Linked DNA regions of Homo sapiens. The protein of the gene in region 2 purifies or fractionates together with the protein of the main gene of each other region. This does not show direct contact. Each region holds a gene or a part of one and is shown on either strand. Other genes may lie near its edges.

What was found.
Region 1: the proteins of CCDC66 (region 2) and TOGARAM1 purify together in Homo sapiens (co-immunoprecipitation; one large-scale study listed by IntAct). This does not show direct contact.

What each region holds. Positions count from the first base shown.
Region 1 is NC_000014.9:45,003,387-45,007,206, forward strand, and holds part of TOGARAM1 (TOG array regulator of axonemal microtubules protein 1), read left to right. Parts: intron 1-674; coding exon 675-980; intron 981-2,621; coding exon 2,622-2,881; intron 2,882-3,820. UniProt on the Homo sapiens protein: Involved in ciliogenesis. It is required for appropriate acetylation and polyglutamylation of ciliary microtubules, and regulation of cilium length.
Region 2 is NC_000003.12:56,609,082-56,612,901, reverse strand, and holds part of CCDC66 (coiled-coil domain-containing protein 66), read right to left. Parts: intron 1-3,820. UniProt on the Homo sapiens protein: Microtubule-binding protein required for ciliogenesis. May function in ciliogenesis by mediating the transport of proteins like BBS4 to the cilium, but also through the organization of the centriolar satellites.

The DNA.
Region 1 (3,820 bases), on a different chromosome or scaffold from region 2:
GCAAGGAAGAAGTAATAAAGAAAAAAATAATAAATAGTACAAAATAAGATGGTAGAATTAAAATCAAATGTATGAATAGTTTCCGTAAGTATAAATTGGCAGAACTTACAACTTAAATGACAGAGGTGATCAGATCTTGTTTTTTTAGTTTTTCATTGAAGTGATCTTTTTAAGAGCATTACCTAAAATACATCAAGATAGGTTGAGAGAAAGTAAAGCATGGAAAAGATACACTAGGCAAATGTTCAGAGAAAAGCAAATAGAAACATGTTGATGATAGGGAAAATATGCACACCAAAACTAAAAACATTTTTAGTTCTAGAGAGGATCATTGTAATGAGAAAAAGAATAATTCACTAAAGAAACAAGACTTCTCTGACATGTGTGTATATGTATACATATACATGCATGTATGTATGTAATTGATAAAATTACAAGGAGAAAGTTAATTTATAAATGTTAGTACAATATTTTAATGGGATAAAGAAGTTTTGAATTAGAAGATACAGAATATTTGAATAACACAAATTAAATTAGTCCTTTACCTCATACCATACAAAAATATACATGCCAATTGGGATGAAAACCTGAATGGGAAAAGCAAAAAGCAAAAAAGCTTTTAACTGTTAAACTGTGTATACATAAATAATATATTATCTTTTGTTTTATTACAGTGTATGCTAGCCTCAATTTTGGCAGTAAGACACAGCAAACATTTGGTAGTCAAACAGAGTGTACTTCCTCAAATGGTCAAAATCCAAGTCCAGGAGCTTACATCCTTCCATCCTATCCTGTCTCATCACCTCGAACTAGTCCAAAGCATACATCTCCTCTTATTATATCTCCAAAGAAGTCTCAAGATAATTCTGTTAATTTCTCAAATTCCTGGCCTCTTAAAAGCTTCGAAGGACTATCAAAGCCAAGTCCACAGAAGAAGCTTGTCAGCCAAAAATCGTCTGATCCTACGGGTAGAAATCATGGTAAAAGTCAATACTTTGTTCAAATTTATTTGTGTTTGAATTAGTACTTTGAAGTTAATGCATAGGGCTGTTAGATCTTTAAAAGCTAGTAAACTACATTTTATCTGTCTGAATTTAGTAAATATTTAGGAAAATATTTAATAGTGTGTTAAATAAATCAAATGTATAAAATTCAATTGAAATTCTCATTTCTTACATTGTCACTTAAAAATCCTTTTCAGAACCAGGAAAATAATGATGCTTTTCTTTGTTTGTTTGTTTGTAAATAGAGATAGGGTCCTACTATGTTGACCAGGCTGTTCTCAAACTCCTGGTCTCAAGTGATTTCTCCCATCCTGTCTTCCCAAAGTGCTGGGATTACAGGCTTGAGCCACTGTGCTGGGCCAGAAAATAGTAATGTTTTATAATGAACATGAACAACATATGTTGTTTGAGAGCCTACTAACAAATTTTAGCTTTACAAATATAAAATGTCATTCATATGCTTATTGCAATTAATGCCTAATATTCATTTATTCAATATTTATTGAATTTTTATTGTATGTTAAAATTAATTTGAAACTTTTTTTTTTTGAGACGGAGTTTCGCTCTTGTTGCCCAGACTGGAGTGCAATGGTGCGATCTTGGCTCACGGCATCCTCCACCTCCAAGTGATTCTCCTGCCTCAGCCTCTTGAGTAGCTGGGGTTATAGGCATGCGCCACCATGCCCGGCTAATTTTGTATTTTTAGTAGAGATGGTGTTTCTCCATGTTGGTGAGGCTGGTCTCAAACTCCCGACCTCAGGTGATCAACCCGCCTCAACCTCCAAAGTGCTGGGATTACAGGCGTGAGCTACTGCACCTGGCTGAAACATTTTTTATTATTTGTTATAAACTAAAATATTCTTTTCTTAACAATAACCCACTCCAAAAATCATGAAATTAGCATATATAAGTTCATTCAGGACAAATTCAGTCTTAAAATAAAAAGTCGACTGAGCGTAGTGGGTCATGCCTGTAGCACTTTGGGAGGCCGAGGTGGTTGGATCCCTTGAGGTCAGGAGTTTGAGACCAGCCTGGCCAGTATGGTGAAACACCATCTCTACCAAAAATACAAAAATTAGCCGGGCTGATGGCACGTGCCTGTAATCCCAGCTACTTGGGAGGCTGAGGCGGGAGAATCGCTTGAACCCAGGAAGCGGAGGTTGCAGTGAGCTGAGGTGGCACCACTGCACTCCAGCCTGGGCTACAAGAGTGAGACTCTGTCTCAAAAAATAAATAAATAAATAAAAATAAAAAGATGTTGAAGGAATCCTCTGCGTCCCTCATGATTTTCTTTCCCCAGCCATTGATGTAAGATGTTTCACCTTTAAACTACCCTACAAGTCCAGTGTTCAATTTATGGCATATTCAGTCAATTTTATCACTTTCTCTTAGCACTATACTTTGATTCTCTTCTATTAATTCCTTTCTGTATTTGTTTATTGTACAAGATCAAATATTGTATCGAAAGCCGAGGCTTTATTCAGCTTGTTCTCCCCAGTGACCAGCTATAATGTGCTTTTTTTATTTTAAAACATTGTATTTTAAGCACTTGTGACTATAACTCCCTCTTCTCTAAAATTAGAAAAAGAAAAAGTAAAATATCTATTTTTCATGCAGGAGAAAATTCTCAAGAAAAACCTCCAGTTCAGCTTACACCTGCCTTGGTGAGATCGCCATCTTCCCGACGAGGTCTAAATGGGACAAAGCCTGTTCCTCCCATACCAAGGGGAATAAGCCTTTTGCCTGATAAAGCTGATTTAAGCACAGTGGGACACAAAAAGAAAGAGCCTGATGATATTTGGAAGTGTGAAAAAGATAGTCTTCCAATTGATCTTTCAGAATTAAATTTCAAGGATAAAGATTTGGATCAAGAAGAGGTTAGAACCAAATATTTTTAATGACTTAAAAATATTTGCAATTTTCTATAATATAGTTGCTATTTAAGGAAAAATCAAGTTCTTTTTATCCTATAATATCTTATTTCTAAAAATATGTTCATTATAGAAAATGTGGAAAATACCATGAATTAGTAGGAAGGGAATTTATCACGCCAGTTCCCACTACCAGAATAATTTACTGTTAACACTCTACTGTATTTTCTTCAAGTATTTTTTCTATGCATACATTATTCCTTTTTAAATTAAAAGTATGAATAATAATATAGCAATACACTCATGTACTGACCCTTCCAGTGAACAGTTTGTCATATTTGTTTCCTATATTTAAATAAATGAAACATAGCATAGTTCTCTCCCCAGTTCAACATCTCTTCCTTCTTCACCAGAGGCAATCACTATTACCATTTATATATGTCTTATGTATTTTTGTACTTTTTATATTAATATTATTTTTGTGTATTTACTTACGGTGTGTTTATACCATTGATTTTGGCTTATGATCAGTCTTTTGCAATTGCATACAGTGAACTGCAATGAACATATTTGAACCTGTCCTTTGTGTTTCTGTGCAAGCTTACTTATCTTTATGAAATTGAGATCATATTGTACACTCATCTTTGAATCCTAGATCACTTTGTGCTATAAAAATGTTACCAGTATGATAACTGTACATAATTATTATATCAGACAAGGAATGCGGTTGCTGTATTACTTTGGTTTCAGAGTACTATTTCCATAGATGCCTCCTTTTTATCATTTCAGTTTGCTTCAAGTCAGGTTAAAAAAAAAGTTTTATATTACATATATAAATGCAAATACTTAATTATGATATTTTATGGTCTTAGTCTGTTTTTAAGGTATAAGCATCAATCATGTAATGATAATTTGCTCAATAAAATAGAGTTAATATTACTGTAT
Region 2 (3,820 bases):
CAGCCAGCACTGCACACAACACCTTGGGAACCCGGGGGCAGGTCTGCCCAGCCTTGCTGCATCTCCACCAGTAACCAAGCACATTGGTCCAGGGACCTGGGGACTGCCCTGCCCAGGACACCACCATTGGCACCTGAGCACTCCTCCTAGAGTATGGGCCCAATCAACCTGCCATTACCATCACAGCTGGCACCCACCCTCATATGCCACCTGCAAGTCTGGGGACTGGCCCACGCAGCCCATTATAGCCACCGCCAACACCACCACTGGCTGCTTGGATCCCAGAGGGTTGTCCCACTACTACTACTGCCATTGCCCATGTTTGCTGCCCAGTGGCTTGAAAACCTACTCACCCACCCAACCCACTGTCACCATTCTCAGCACCTGAGCAAGCCATCTAGAAGCCCAATAATTGGCCTGGCTTGACCTGCTACCACTGATGCCAGTGTATACAGCCCTGGGGCCCAAGGACAGGCATGCTCAGCCTACTGCTAGCATCCTGCAACCTAACGACTGGTCCATTTGGTGTCCCCGTTCACAACAAAACTTTACCACAGCCTCCACGAACAACTGCACCCTAAGCCACCAAGGAAATTACAGATACCACAGATACTGTTTTCGGCCAAAAAAAAGTCTATAGAGATTACACTACTGCACATACCCAGAATCAAAGCCAAAGTGCCTACCCAACCACCATCATAGATATGAAAGCAAATTCAAAAAATCGGAAGAAGTGATCGTTATACCAGATATGCAGATATCAAGGTGCAGAATATGTAAAAAAGCAAGGAAATAGGAGTTGAGGACCATGGCAGATGGGAGGCAGGACTAGATTGCAGCTCCAGACACAGCAGCATGTGGAGGCTTGCATTGTGAATTTTAGCTATAGATCAACTGCAAGAACAGACCAGCAATCCTTAGAGGACCCTCTGAAGAAAGCAGACTGCTGCTGCAGGAGCTGGGAGACACCCCAAATACTGTGAGTGACCCAACTGTGGAAGTGGGAAAGGGAGACCCTCCTCTCCCGAACACACACCCCCACTGGAGAAGCTGAAAGTCTTTGCGGGAGAAGCTCCCGACTTTACCTGGGGCTGAGTCAAGTTAGAGAGCCGAGCCCAGTGAAATACATGGGTAGAGGAAGTAGCAGAAAGACACTGGGAGCTCGTGGGATCCCCAAGGATCCCATCCCTGCCTGGCACCACAGGGATCCATCAGGAGGGTGGCCAGAGGAGCAGGGGTTAAAACTCCACAGGGAGAATTACTTCTCTAGATGAACTTTGTAACAACTTGAACAGGACGAGAAGCTTCCTTGCCAGAACTGGGCGTGGGGGGTGGGGGGTGGGCATGAATTGGGCTTGCAGACTCCACAGGTGGGGGAAGAACTAAAGCCGTTTTCTTTCGCAGCTGGGGAGGTCTTCTTTCATAGCTGGGCCCTATACCTGGAAACAGACTCGGGGGATGTTGCAGGCGTTTGAGGGGGTCGGGGGACACAGTGAGACTGGCCCTTTGGTTTGTGGGGGAGTTGGGTGAGGCCTGTGACTGCTGGCTTTCCCCCACTTCCCTGACAACCTGCATGACTCAGCACAGGCAGCCATAATCCTCCTAGGTACACTACTCCAGTGACCTGGGAATCTCATCCCCGTCCCCCACAGCAGCCACAGCAAGACCCACCCAAGGAGAGCCTGACCTCAGACACACCTAGCCCCGCCCCCACCTGGTGGTCCTTCTCTATCCACCCTGGTATCGGAAGACAAAAGACATATAATCTTGAGAGTTCTAGGGCCCTCACCATGGCTGGTCCCTCTCCACACACTACTACAGCTGATGCTTTCTGGAAAGCACCACCTCCTGGCAGGAGGCCAACCAGCACAAAAATAGAGCATTAAACCATCAAAGCTAAGGAGTCCCACGGAGTCCACTGCATCCTCCACCACCTCCACCAGAACAGGCACTGGTATCCACGGCTGAGAGAGCCACAGACAGTTCACATAAGCACTCTGTGCAGACAACTCCCAGCACCAGCCCGGAGCCAAGTAGACTCACTGGGTGGCTGGACCCAGAAGACAGACAATAATCACTGCAGTTAGGCTCACAGGAAGCAACATCCACAGGAAAAGGGGGAAGCGTAATACATAGGGAACACCCTGTGGGACAAAAAAATCTGAACAACACTCTTCAGCCCTAGACAATCCCTCTGACAGAGCCTACCCAAATAAGAAGGAACCAGAAAACCAACTGTGGTAATATAATAAAACAAGGCTCGTCAACACCCCCCCAAAAATCACACTACTTCACCAGCAATGGATCTAAACCAAAAAGAAATCCCTGATTTACCTGAAAAAGAATTCAGGAGGTTAGTTATTATGCTAATCAGAGAGGGACCAGAGAAAGGCGAAGCCCAATGCAAGGAAATCAGAAAAATGATACAAGAAGTAAAGGGAGAAATATTCAGTGAAATAGATAGCTTAAAGAAAAAACCAAAAATTCAGGAAACTTTGGACACACTTTTAGAAATGTGAAATGCTCTGGTAAGTCTCAGCAACAGAATTGAACAAGGAGAAGAAAGAAATTTAGAGCTCAAAGAAAGTGGACACACTTTTAGAAATATGAAATGCTCTGGAAAGTCTCAGCAATAGAATTGAACAAGTAGAAGAAAGAAATTCAGAGCTCGGATGACCAAACCTAAGAATAATTGGTGTTCCTGAGGGAGAAGACAATTCTAAAAGCTTGCAAAACATATTTAGGGGAATAATTGAGGAAAACTTCCCTGGCCTTGCTAAAGACCTAGACATGCATACACAAGAAGCACAAAGAACACCTGGGAAATTCAACACAAAAAGATCTCTGCCTAGGCACAGTGTCATCAGGTTATCCAAAGTGAAGACGAAGGAAAGAATCTTAAGAGCTGTGAGACAGAAGCACCAGGTAACCTATAAAGGAAAACCTATCAGATTAACAGCAGATTTCTCAGCAGAAACCCTACAAGCTAGAAGAGATTGGGGCCCTATCTTCAGCCTCCTCAAACAAAAAAATTATCAGCCAAATTTTGTATTTGGCAAAACTAAGCATCATATAGTCATTTTCAGACAAATGCTGAGAGAATTCGCCATTACCAAGCCACCACTAAAAGAACTGCTAAAAGGAGCTCTAAATCTTGAAACAAATCCTGGAAACACATCAAAACAGAATCTCTTTAAAACATAAATCACACAGGAGGACCTATAAAACAAAAATACAAGTTAAAAAACAAAAACAAAAAACAAATCCAAAGTACGCAAGCAACAAACAGCATGATGAATGCAACAGTACCTCACATTTCAATATTAACATTGAATGTAAATGGCCTAAAGGCTCCACTTAAAAGATACAGAACTGCAGAATGGATAAGAACTTACCAACCATCTGCCCTCTTAGGAGACTCACCTAAACTTTAAGTTTATGTGAGCGGAAAAACACATTTCATGCAAATGCACACCAAAAGCAAACAGGATAGCTATTCTTATATCAGACAAAACAAACTTTAAAGCAACAGTGGTTAAAAGAGACAAAGAGGGACATTACATAATAGTAAAAGGCCTGGTCCAACAGGAGAACATCACAATCCTAAACATATATGCACCTAACACTGTAGCTCCCAAACTTGTAATTACTAATAGACCTAAGAAATGAGATAGCAACACCATAATAGTGGAGGACTTCAATACTCCACTGACTAGACAGGTCATCAAGACAGAAAGTCAACAAAGAAACAATGGATTTAAACTATACCCTGGAACAAATGGACCTAACAGATATATACAGAACATTTAGTCTAACAACC